Linked DNA regions of Homo sapiens: region 1 is reported to be linked to region 2. Evidence: microRNA targets listed by miRTarBase, many of them from high-throughput screens and not tested one by one. Region 2 holds a microRNA gene; the other region holds the end of a gene's coding sequence.

Region 1 (4,367 bases), not on the chromosome of region 2:
CAAGGAAACCAGTAGATGGGAAATGCCTAGGAAGAGCTTATTTGGGGATTTGATTTGGTTTGTTCCCACTGTCCCTTTATAAATATTTGTGTGCTCTCATTTTAAAAAGAGAAACACCAGAACCATGTTTTTCTGTGGTTGGACCAGTGCTCACTGCCCTTCCCAGTAGCCCAGTCACACCCATGAACATTGCAGCCCCTGCCAGTTGTGGCTTTGCCAGTTCGCCTTTCCTCAGGGACCTCCAAAGTCCCCAGCCTCTGAAGCCATTGGGGAGAATGCACAGTGAATTCTGATGCTTTTGCTGGTACAGACACTTCCCGTGCGGTGCTAACCGTCCCCTGTGTAATAGTTTATGTTCTAGGATGACCAAGTAGAAGAATACTTTGAAAAAATTGATAATGCCTTCTGGCTATACAGTGAGTCTTTGTTTTGTTTTGTTTTGTTTCCTTTGCCATATCAGAGAATTAATTTGCCTGAGAGAGTGTCTTTAAGAAAATAACGGGAGCACGGAAAACCCTTAGCACTTTGCCTGAGCAGTGAAAGAAAGATTGAGCTGTGGGTCACAGAAATGTCCTTAAAATGAAACAGACTGCTGATGTCTAAATTGCTTTTCTGTGATGGAACTGCTTGTACTCTATATCCTGTTCATAATGCAGATCAAATAAGATTATACTATTATTTTTCTTTTGCCGTAGCTCAGGACAGTGGTGAGTTTCAGACTCCTCTAGGTAAGGCCCAGCTTGGCGTAGGGGTTGTGTGTGCACCTGACCTGGGAATGGGCTTTATATTTCTCTCGTGTGCACTCTTCTGTGAGCTGAGGTTCAAAGGCTAACGGCGAGCTTGGCGCTGAGGAGGCCGTGCACGGTGCACTTGGTTGTGTTGGGCTCTGCTGAACACCTCTCCAGACCCTCCGAGGACAGTCCACTCCTGAGCCCTGCCCTGCAGGAGCCAAGCAAGAGCTGAGGCAGCCACTTTTGCATCTGCATTCTTTGTGGAAAGAGAGCAAACACACTACAGTTCTCATATAAGCCACTGACTCCAGCCTGGCAGCTTCTAAAAGAGAGGCTCAGCAGAGTTTGTTAACATGGCCTCACCACTCCTCGTGGCCCCTCTGGACAGCCAGGAGGGTTGGTGGTAGCGTAGCCTCACTGCAAAGGATGGAGAAACCGAGCCACAGAGAGGCCCAGGCTAGGGTGTCCAGCTCCAGCCTGACAAGGTGATGGAGCTGGGACCAGCATCCGCCCTTCCAGAATCTACCTAAATTGCCTGTAGAGACCACTCAAATAATGAACCAGTATGTCCTGAGTGCTTACCGTGTGTTAAGTACTCTACCAAGCACTGCAGAGAATGCAGAGGAAATGTAAGATATGGTCCTGCCCTCTGAGAATTTCCAATCCAGTTGGATTATTATCCTATCTCCGGCATAATCATGTATTAATAATGTCTTCGAGCTCCAGATAGCAGTTGTCTCCCTCCCTCCTCCCTTCCTCATTAGCAGATGGGCCGTTGGGTGGGCTTCCTTCTCCTCCCATGCCCCTGCCATAGTCCTCAGCTTCCTTTCCTGACAAAGAGCTAGTCCTGTAGGGAGATATGTTTTACGAGTACATAGATATGTACACATGCACACACTCACACAGAGAGACACACACAGGCCTTCTCATCCTAACAAACCCTTAATAAGCACGATTCTGACCCCTGTGACTTTCTGTTTGCTGGAGGTAGCGCTCCCCCTATAAGCTGTTCTTTAAAACCTCTTAGCCTTTCTGCGTGTGCTTGGTGTGGTGCATGAAAAGTCGATTCTTTGTGTTGCTCCCATCTAGAGGGGAGGTCAGGAGGTTTAGACCTCTGCGCTGTCTGGTCGGGAGTGGGGAGGGCTCCGAGGGGCCGGGCGGGGGCTGGAGGGGAGCACCAGCAAATTGATTCCTGGCACTTTCTCTGCTCCCCTTGGTGAGGGCTGGCCTTGCCTGTATCGGCCAAGAGACCCAGAATAGGCTGAGCGGACCTTGCCAGAGCTGCTTGTCAGCGGGGACTGCTCTGTCAGCAGGGAGAGCCAAAAAGGGCCGTTCCACCCCTGAGAGGCGGCAGGGCTGGGCTGGGCTGGGCAGGCCAGGCCTCAGACACTGGGGGGTGGTGTGAGGGAAGGCTGGTGAGGCGGCGAGAAGCGCGGCTGCCTCCGAACCTTCCCGGCTGAACCTCCCTTGCGTTGCTTTCCCCGGCAGGTGCCCATTCTGCATTTATTCCACCAACCGCCCCGCTGCCATGGAGTGCCACCTCAAGACCCACTACAAGATGGAGTACAAGTGCCGGATCTGCCAGACGGTGAAGGCCAACCAGCTGGAGCTGGAGACGCACACCCGGGAGCACCGCCTGGGCAACCACTACAAGTGCGACCAGTGCGGCTACCTGTCCAAGACCGCCAACAAGCTCATCGAGCACGTGCGCGTCCACACCGGGGAGCGGCCCTTCCACTGTGACCAGTGCAGCTACAGCTGCAAGCGCAAGGACAATCTCAACCTGCACAAGAAGCTGAAGCACGCCCCACGCCAGACCTTCAGCTGCGAAGAGTGCCTGTTCAAGACCACACACCCTTTCGTCTTCAGCCGCCACGTCAAGAAGCACCAGAGTGGGGACTGCCCCGAGGAGGACAAGAAGGGCCTGTGTCCAGCCCCCAAGGAACCGGCCGGCCCGGGGGCCCCGCTCCTGGTGGTCGGGAGCTCCCGGAATCTCCTGTCTCCCCTGTCAGTTATGTCTGCCTCCCAGGCTCTGCAGACCGTGGCCCTGTCGGCAGCCCACGGCAGCAGCTCAGAGCCCAACCTGGCACTCAAGGCTTTGGCCTTCAACGGCTCCCCTTTGCGCTTTGACAAGTACCGGAACTCAGATTTTGCCCATCTCATTCCCTTGACAATGTTATACCCCAAGAACCACTTGGATCTCACATTCCACCCTCCCCGACCTCAGACTGCGCCTCCCAGCATCCCCTCACCCAAACACTCCTTCCTGGCCTATCTCGGACTGAGAGAAAGAGCAGAGACTGTCTGAGGGCAGCCATGTTCTGTACCAAAAACAGAGAGACAAAAGACAAAAAAAAAAAAAAAAACCACAAAACTTAAACACAACCCCAGCAGGTGTATGTTGCTGCAAAACCTACAGACCCCGATGGGTCTGGAACATGTGTACTGTATATCTTTAGTAAGGAATAGAAAATTGGCTCTGTGTGTATACCTATTGCATTGACCTGAAAGCTGCTTTATCCAATCTTCAGAGAGGTGACCTACTGCATACTTCTACCTTCAGAGGCATGCCTCCCCAGCCACCCACTCCCACTCTCAGCCCTTCTCCGTACTTTTCTCTGAAAGGAATCTTGTCTTGTTAAACCCTAAAGAGAGTGTCCTTAATAGCAATCAGCACTTGTAAGCTTATATACTGGTGCATTTGGTTTTCTGTTGGGTGAATGCGGTGTGTGGGCGTTTGTGGATTCTGAAAGAGAAAGCCGTGTGTCGTGTGCCATGACATTTCTATTGCACATTCTTTGTACTGGCTTCTTTAACAGCGATGAACGTTCTTTTCCCTCCTGGGTTGTTCATCCACGACAGTCTCTCCCTGTGCTCCTTCATCACCTTTCCCTCTCTCTTTGATGGCTACAGAGTGGTAGGGCCTGGTGCTTAGTCGATGAAGGAATGGTAGCCATCTACAGTGCTGCTGGAGATTTCCGCCAGAGCGCTGGAGACCTTGCGCTCAGATCTTCTCTGGTGATGAAGAGGCGAGGAATCAAGTGACTGATCTGGAAGAAATATCTCGCAGCACTGCAGCTAACATCACAGAACTTAAGTGTGTTTTGTGTGTGTGCCCACACGTAGACAAATGTGTACGGTGCACACACACAGTGCATCATTTTTTAAGGGCAGATTATATATATATATGAGATGTATTAATTCAGTGGTTACCATTTGTTTGCAGGAAAAAGAAATGTATGGGTGAAAAAATTTATGGTTGATAAATCCAGCCAAGGAGATTAAAAGGGGTTTGGATAAATTCTGGGTATAAATGCTCAGACTAAAAAAAAGAAATGGCAGTTTTGCACAGTGCTATGGTCTTGCACTAGTTTTTGTTTCTCATCTGAAAAAAAAAAAGTAAAATAAAAGGAAGAAAATGTACCTTTTTTATGGAATGAGTAGACTGTATGTTTGAAGATTTAGCCACAACCTCTTTGACATATAATGACGCAACAAAAAGGTGCTGTTTAGTCCTATGGTTCAGTTTATGCCCCTGACAAGTTTCCATTGTGTTTTGCCGATCTTCTGGCTAATCGTGGTATCCTCCATGTTATTAGTAATTCTGTATTCCATTTTGTTAACGCCTGGTAGATG
Region 2 (4,387 bases):
TTCTGTCTTTGACTATTTGAGACAGTCTTGCTCTGTCACCCGAGATGGAGTACATTAGTGTGATCTTGGCTCACTGCAACCTCTGCCTCCTGGACTCAAGCAATTCTCTTTTTTTTTTTTTTGGAGAAAGAGCCTCTCTGTGTCTCCCAGGCTGGACTGCAGTGGTGTGATCTCAGCTCACTGCAACCTCAGCCTTCCAAGTAGCTGGGATTGCAGACATGTACCCCCATACCAGCTATATATATATATGTATTTTAGACACAGTTTCACCATGTTAGCCAGGCCATTCTTGAATCCTGACCTCAGGTGATTTGCCGACGTAGGCCTCCCGAAGTGCTGGGATTACAGGTATGAGCCACTGCACTCAGCCTTTTTTCCTAATTTTGAATATGGGACCCATTATGAATTTGGGTGTCACCTATGTGCGGGGGCTATGGAAATCTCTGTCACCCCATTCATTTGTGTGTGCTGTCAAAGCACCAATATGTGGGAATTATGCTTTATGTGAGCATATAGTATATGGAACTTTGGTTTTTTTTTATACAGGGTCTCAAAAAAAAATGAGTATATTTCATCACAATGTTCTGTGTATAATTCCATACACACAAAATAGTCTTCTATACACAGAGAACACTCTTATATCACTTTGGAGTTGTTTTTGTTTGTGTATTTTGTTTTAATTTTTATGAGACAGGGCCTGGCTATGTCGCTGAGGCTGGAGGGCAGTGGTGAGATCTTGGCTCACTGCAACCTCCACCTGCCACCTCAGCCTCCTGGATTAGTGTCTACAGGCAGGCACCACCACCCCTGGGTAAGTTCTGTATTTTTGGTACTGATGAGGTTTCAGCACGTTCCACAGGCTGGACTCTTAACTCCTGCGATCAAGTGATCCTCCCGCTGTTCAAATTTTACTGAGGAGCTTTTAAGGCCTCGCCTGTGGTCTGTCCTGTAGTGTCCCTGTCCTGGAACTCAAGTGAATACTTGGTTTAAAATTGATTGCTGTTCTCTAGAAATCCAGCCCAATTCTCTTGGTTAAATATAAGGTATGTGTAGTAGGCACTGCTTTTTCTTTCTGGAGGCGAAACTCAGGAGGATTGCCCCTTGATGAACAAGGCTAACCTGCTGAGCCTTTGAAGCAAGGAACTGGAGATGGTCGTTTTAGGGGTTTATGTTCTGGATTCCAGAAAACATGGAAACAGGGCCAATAAATGCATCTTTATTTTTGTGTCCATTTTAACCCAGTGAAGGAAGATTTCAACCAAAAACCCACGGTGCTGGAGCAAGAAGATCTCAAGCTGTGACTCTCCAGAGGGATGCACTTTCTCTTATGTGAAAAAAAAGAAGGCGCTTCCCTTTAGAGCGTTACGGTTTGGGTAAAGCAACGTTGAAGTTGATGCTGATCTTGGTAATATATTTGCAGAGCATGCTTATAATTAAGACTTGGATGATGGTGGGTTTCTGTTTTGTTTTTTGTTTTAAATCAGAGTCTCACTCTGTCACCCAGGCTGGAGTGCAATGGCGCAATCTCGGCTCACTGCAACTTCCCCCTCCTGGGTTCAAGTGATTCTCCTGCCTCAGCCTCCTGAGTAGTTAGGATTACAGACATGCGCCACCTCACCCGGCTCAGTTTTTGTATTTGGTGGAGATGGGGTTTCACCATGTTAGTCAGGCTGGTCTTGAACTCCTGATCTCAGGTGATCCACCTGCCTCAGCCTCCCAAAGCATTGGGATTACAGGCGTGAGCCACCACGCCAGGCCTGTTCAACATCTTAGATTTCATTTTGGATGTTCCTGTGAGGACTGCGTGTCCCTGTGCTGGAACTCAAGTGAACGCTTGGCTCAAAATCCATTGCTGTTCTCTAGAAATCCAGCCAAATTCTATTGGTGAAATATAAGGTATGTCTAGTAGTCATTGCTTTTTCTCTTTGGAGACAAAACTCAGGAGGATTGCCCCTTGATGAACAAGGCTAACCTGCTGAGCCTTTGAAACAAGGAACTGGAGATGGTCCTTTCAGGGGTTTATATTCTGGATTCCAGAAAACATGCAAACAGGGCCAGTAAATGCATCTTTATTTTTGTGTTCATTTTAACCTGGTCAAGGAAAATTGCTACAAAAAACCCAGGGTGCTGGAGCAAGAAGATCTCATGCTGTGACCCTCTAGAGGGAAGCGCTTTCTGTTGTCTGAAAGAAAAGAACGCGCTTCCCTATAGAGGGTTACCCTTTGAGAAAAGCAGCATTGAAGTTGATGCTGATCTTGCTAATACATTTGCAGAGCATGCTTATCATCAGACTTGGATGAAGGTGGGGTTCTGTTTTTTTTTTTTTTCTAAGACAGGATCTCTGTTGCCCAGGCTGGAATGTGGTGGCACTTCCAACCTAGCTCTCTTGGGCTCAAATGGTCCTCTCTTTTGGGATAGAGTCTTACTCTGTGACCCAGGCTGGAGTGCAGTGGCGTGATCTCAGCTTACTGCCACCTCCACCTCCCAGTTTCAAGCCGTTCTCCTGCCTCAGATTCCTGAGTATCTGGGATTATAGGTACCTGACACCACGCCTGGCTAATACTTGCATTTTTCTTTCTTTTTTCTTTTCTTTTTTTTTTTTTTTTTTTTGAGATGGAGTCTTACTCTGTCACCAGGCTGGAGTGCAGTGGTGCGATCTTCGCTTATTTCAACCTCCGCCTCCCAGTTTCAAGTGATTCTCCTGCCTCAGCCACCCGACTAACTAGGATTTCAGGCATGCACCACACGCCTGGCTAATTTTTTGTATTTTTAGTAGAGACAGGGTTTCACCATGTTGGTCAGGCTGGTCTCGAACTCCCGACCTCTGGTGATCTTCCCGCCTTGGCCTCCGAAAGTGCTGGGATTGCAGGCATTAGCCACCCCGCCCGGCCATTATATATTCTTATATATATAATACCATATACGTGCAAAATACTCTTCTACATGAAGAGAATACTCTTATATCACTTTGGGGTTTTTTTTGTTTGTTTGTGTGTGTGTGAGTGTATGTTTTATTTGTTTTTGGATAAGGTCTGGCTCTGTCACCCAGTCTAGAGTGCAGTTGTGCCATCTCTCTCAGCTCACTGCGACTTCTACCTCCCACCTAAGCCTGCTGAATTAGTGTCTACAGGCATGCACCACCACACCTGGCTCCGTTTTGTATTTTTTATACACATGGGCTTACACCATGTTGCCGAGACTGGTCTCGAACACCTGAGCTCAGGTGATACTTCAGTTTCAGCCTCCTAATGTGCTGGGATTAGAGGTGTGAGCCACCGTGCCCCACTTGTAGTTGTGTGTTTCTGTTCAAATTTTATTGAGGAGTTTTTAGGGCCTAGCCTGTGATCTACCCTGGAGGATGTTTGTGTGTACAACAATGTATATTCTTTAACATCGTAGATTCCATTTTGGATGCTCCCATCGGGACTGTGTGTCCCTGTGCTGGAACTCTGGTGAACACCTGGCTCAATATCCATTTCTCTTCTCTAGAAATCCAGCCCAGTTCTCTTGGTTAAATATAAGGTACATATGTCTATGAGGCATTGCTTTTGCTCTTTGAGAACAAAACTCAGGAGGATTGCTCTTTGATGAACAAAGCTAACCTGCTGATCCTTTGAAGCAAGGAACTGGAGATGGTCCTTTTAGGGGTTTATATTCTGGATTCCAGAAAACATGCAAACAGGGCCAATAAATGCATCTTTGTTTTTGTGTCCATTTTAACCGGGTGAAGGAAAATTCCAACAAAAAACCCAGAGTGTTGGAGCAAGAAGATCTCATGCTGTGACCCTCTAGAGGGAAGCACTTTCTCTTGTCTAAAAGAAAAGAAAGCGCTTCTCTTTAGAGGATTACTCTTTGAGAAAAGCAACGTTGAAGTTGATGCTTATCTTGGTAATAAATTTGCAGAGAATGCTTATAATCAGACGTGGATGATGTTGGTGTTTCATGTTTGTTTTGTTTTGTTTTTAATACAGGGTGTCTGTTGCCCAGGCTGGAGTGTGGTGGTCCCTCTCCAACCTAGATCTCTTGGGTTCAAGTGGCCCTCTTTTTTGGGTCAGAGTCTTGCTCTGTGGCCCTGGCTGGAGTGCAGTGTCAGGATCTCTGCTCACTACAACCTCTGCCTCCTGGGTAAAAGCGATTCTCCTGCCTCAGCCTCCCAAGCAACTGGGATTACAGGCATGTGCTACCATGCCCGGCTAATTTTTGTAATTTCCTTTATTTATTTTTGAGACAGAGTCTTACTCTTTCGCCCAGGCTGGAGTGCAGTGGTGCAATCTCGGCTCACTGCAACCTCCAACTCCCACCTCAGCCTCCTGAATAGCTGTCTACAGGCATGCACCACCACACCTGGCTAACTTTTGTATTTTTTGTACAGACATGGTTTCTCCAT

The links. Region 2 holds the annotated microRNA hsa-miR-525-5p (CUCCAGAGGGAUGCACUUUCU, at 1,304-1,324, shown strand). A microRNA usually pairs through its seed, bases 2 to 8, with sites in the 3' UTR of a target mRNA and lowers its output. Matches are read on the target gene's strand: a 7mer-m8 pairs with bases 2 to 8, a 7mer-A1 pairs with bases 2 to 7 and ends in A, and an 8mer does both.
Region 1: miRTarBase lists ZNF827 as a target of hsa-miR-525-5p. Seed matches in the 3' UTR shown: 7mer-A1 at 3,162-3,168 and 7mer-A1 at 3,781-3,787.

The regions. Positions count from the first base shown.
Region 1 is chr4:145,759,451-145,763,817 of GRCh38, reverse strand. ZNF827 (zinc finger protein 827) reads left to right here. Exons shown (of 15, transcript NM_001306215.2): 14 at 696-728; 15 at 2,220-4,367. The coding sequence ends at 711. It also overlaps a transcript of C4orf51 not described here. Among named protein-coding and RNA genes, the nearest start is that of C4orf51, 81 kb to the right of the region's middle. RefSeq lists enhancers at 394-893, 894-1,395.
Region 2 is chr19:53,696,244-53,700,630 of GRCh38, forward strand. It overlaps MIR525 (microRNA 525), which reads left to right and starts at 1,290; the gene lies at 1,290-1,374. It overlaps MIR523 (microRNA 523), which reads left to right and starts at 2,142; the gene lies at 2,142-2,228. MIR518F (microRNA 518f) reads left to right here and starts at 3,772; the gene lies at 3,772-3,858.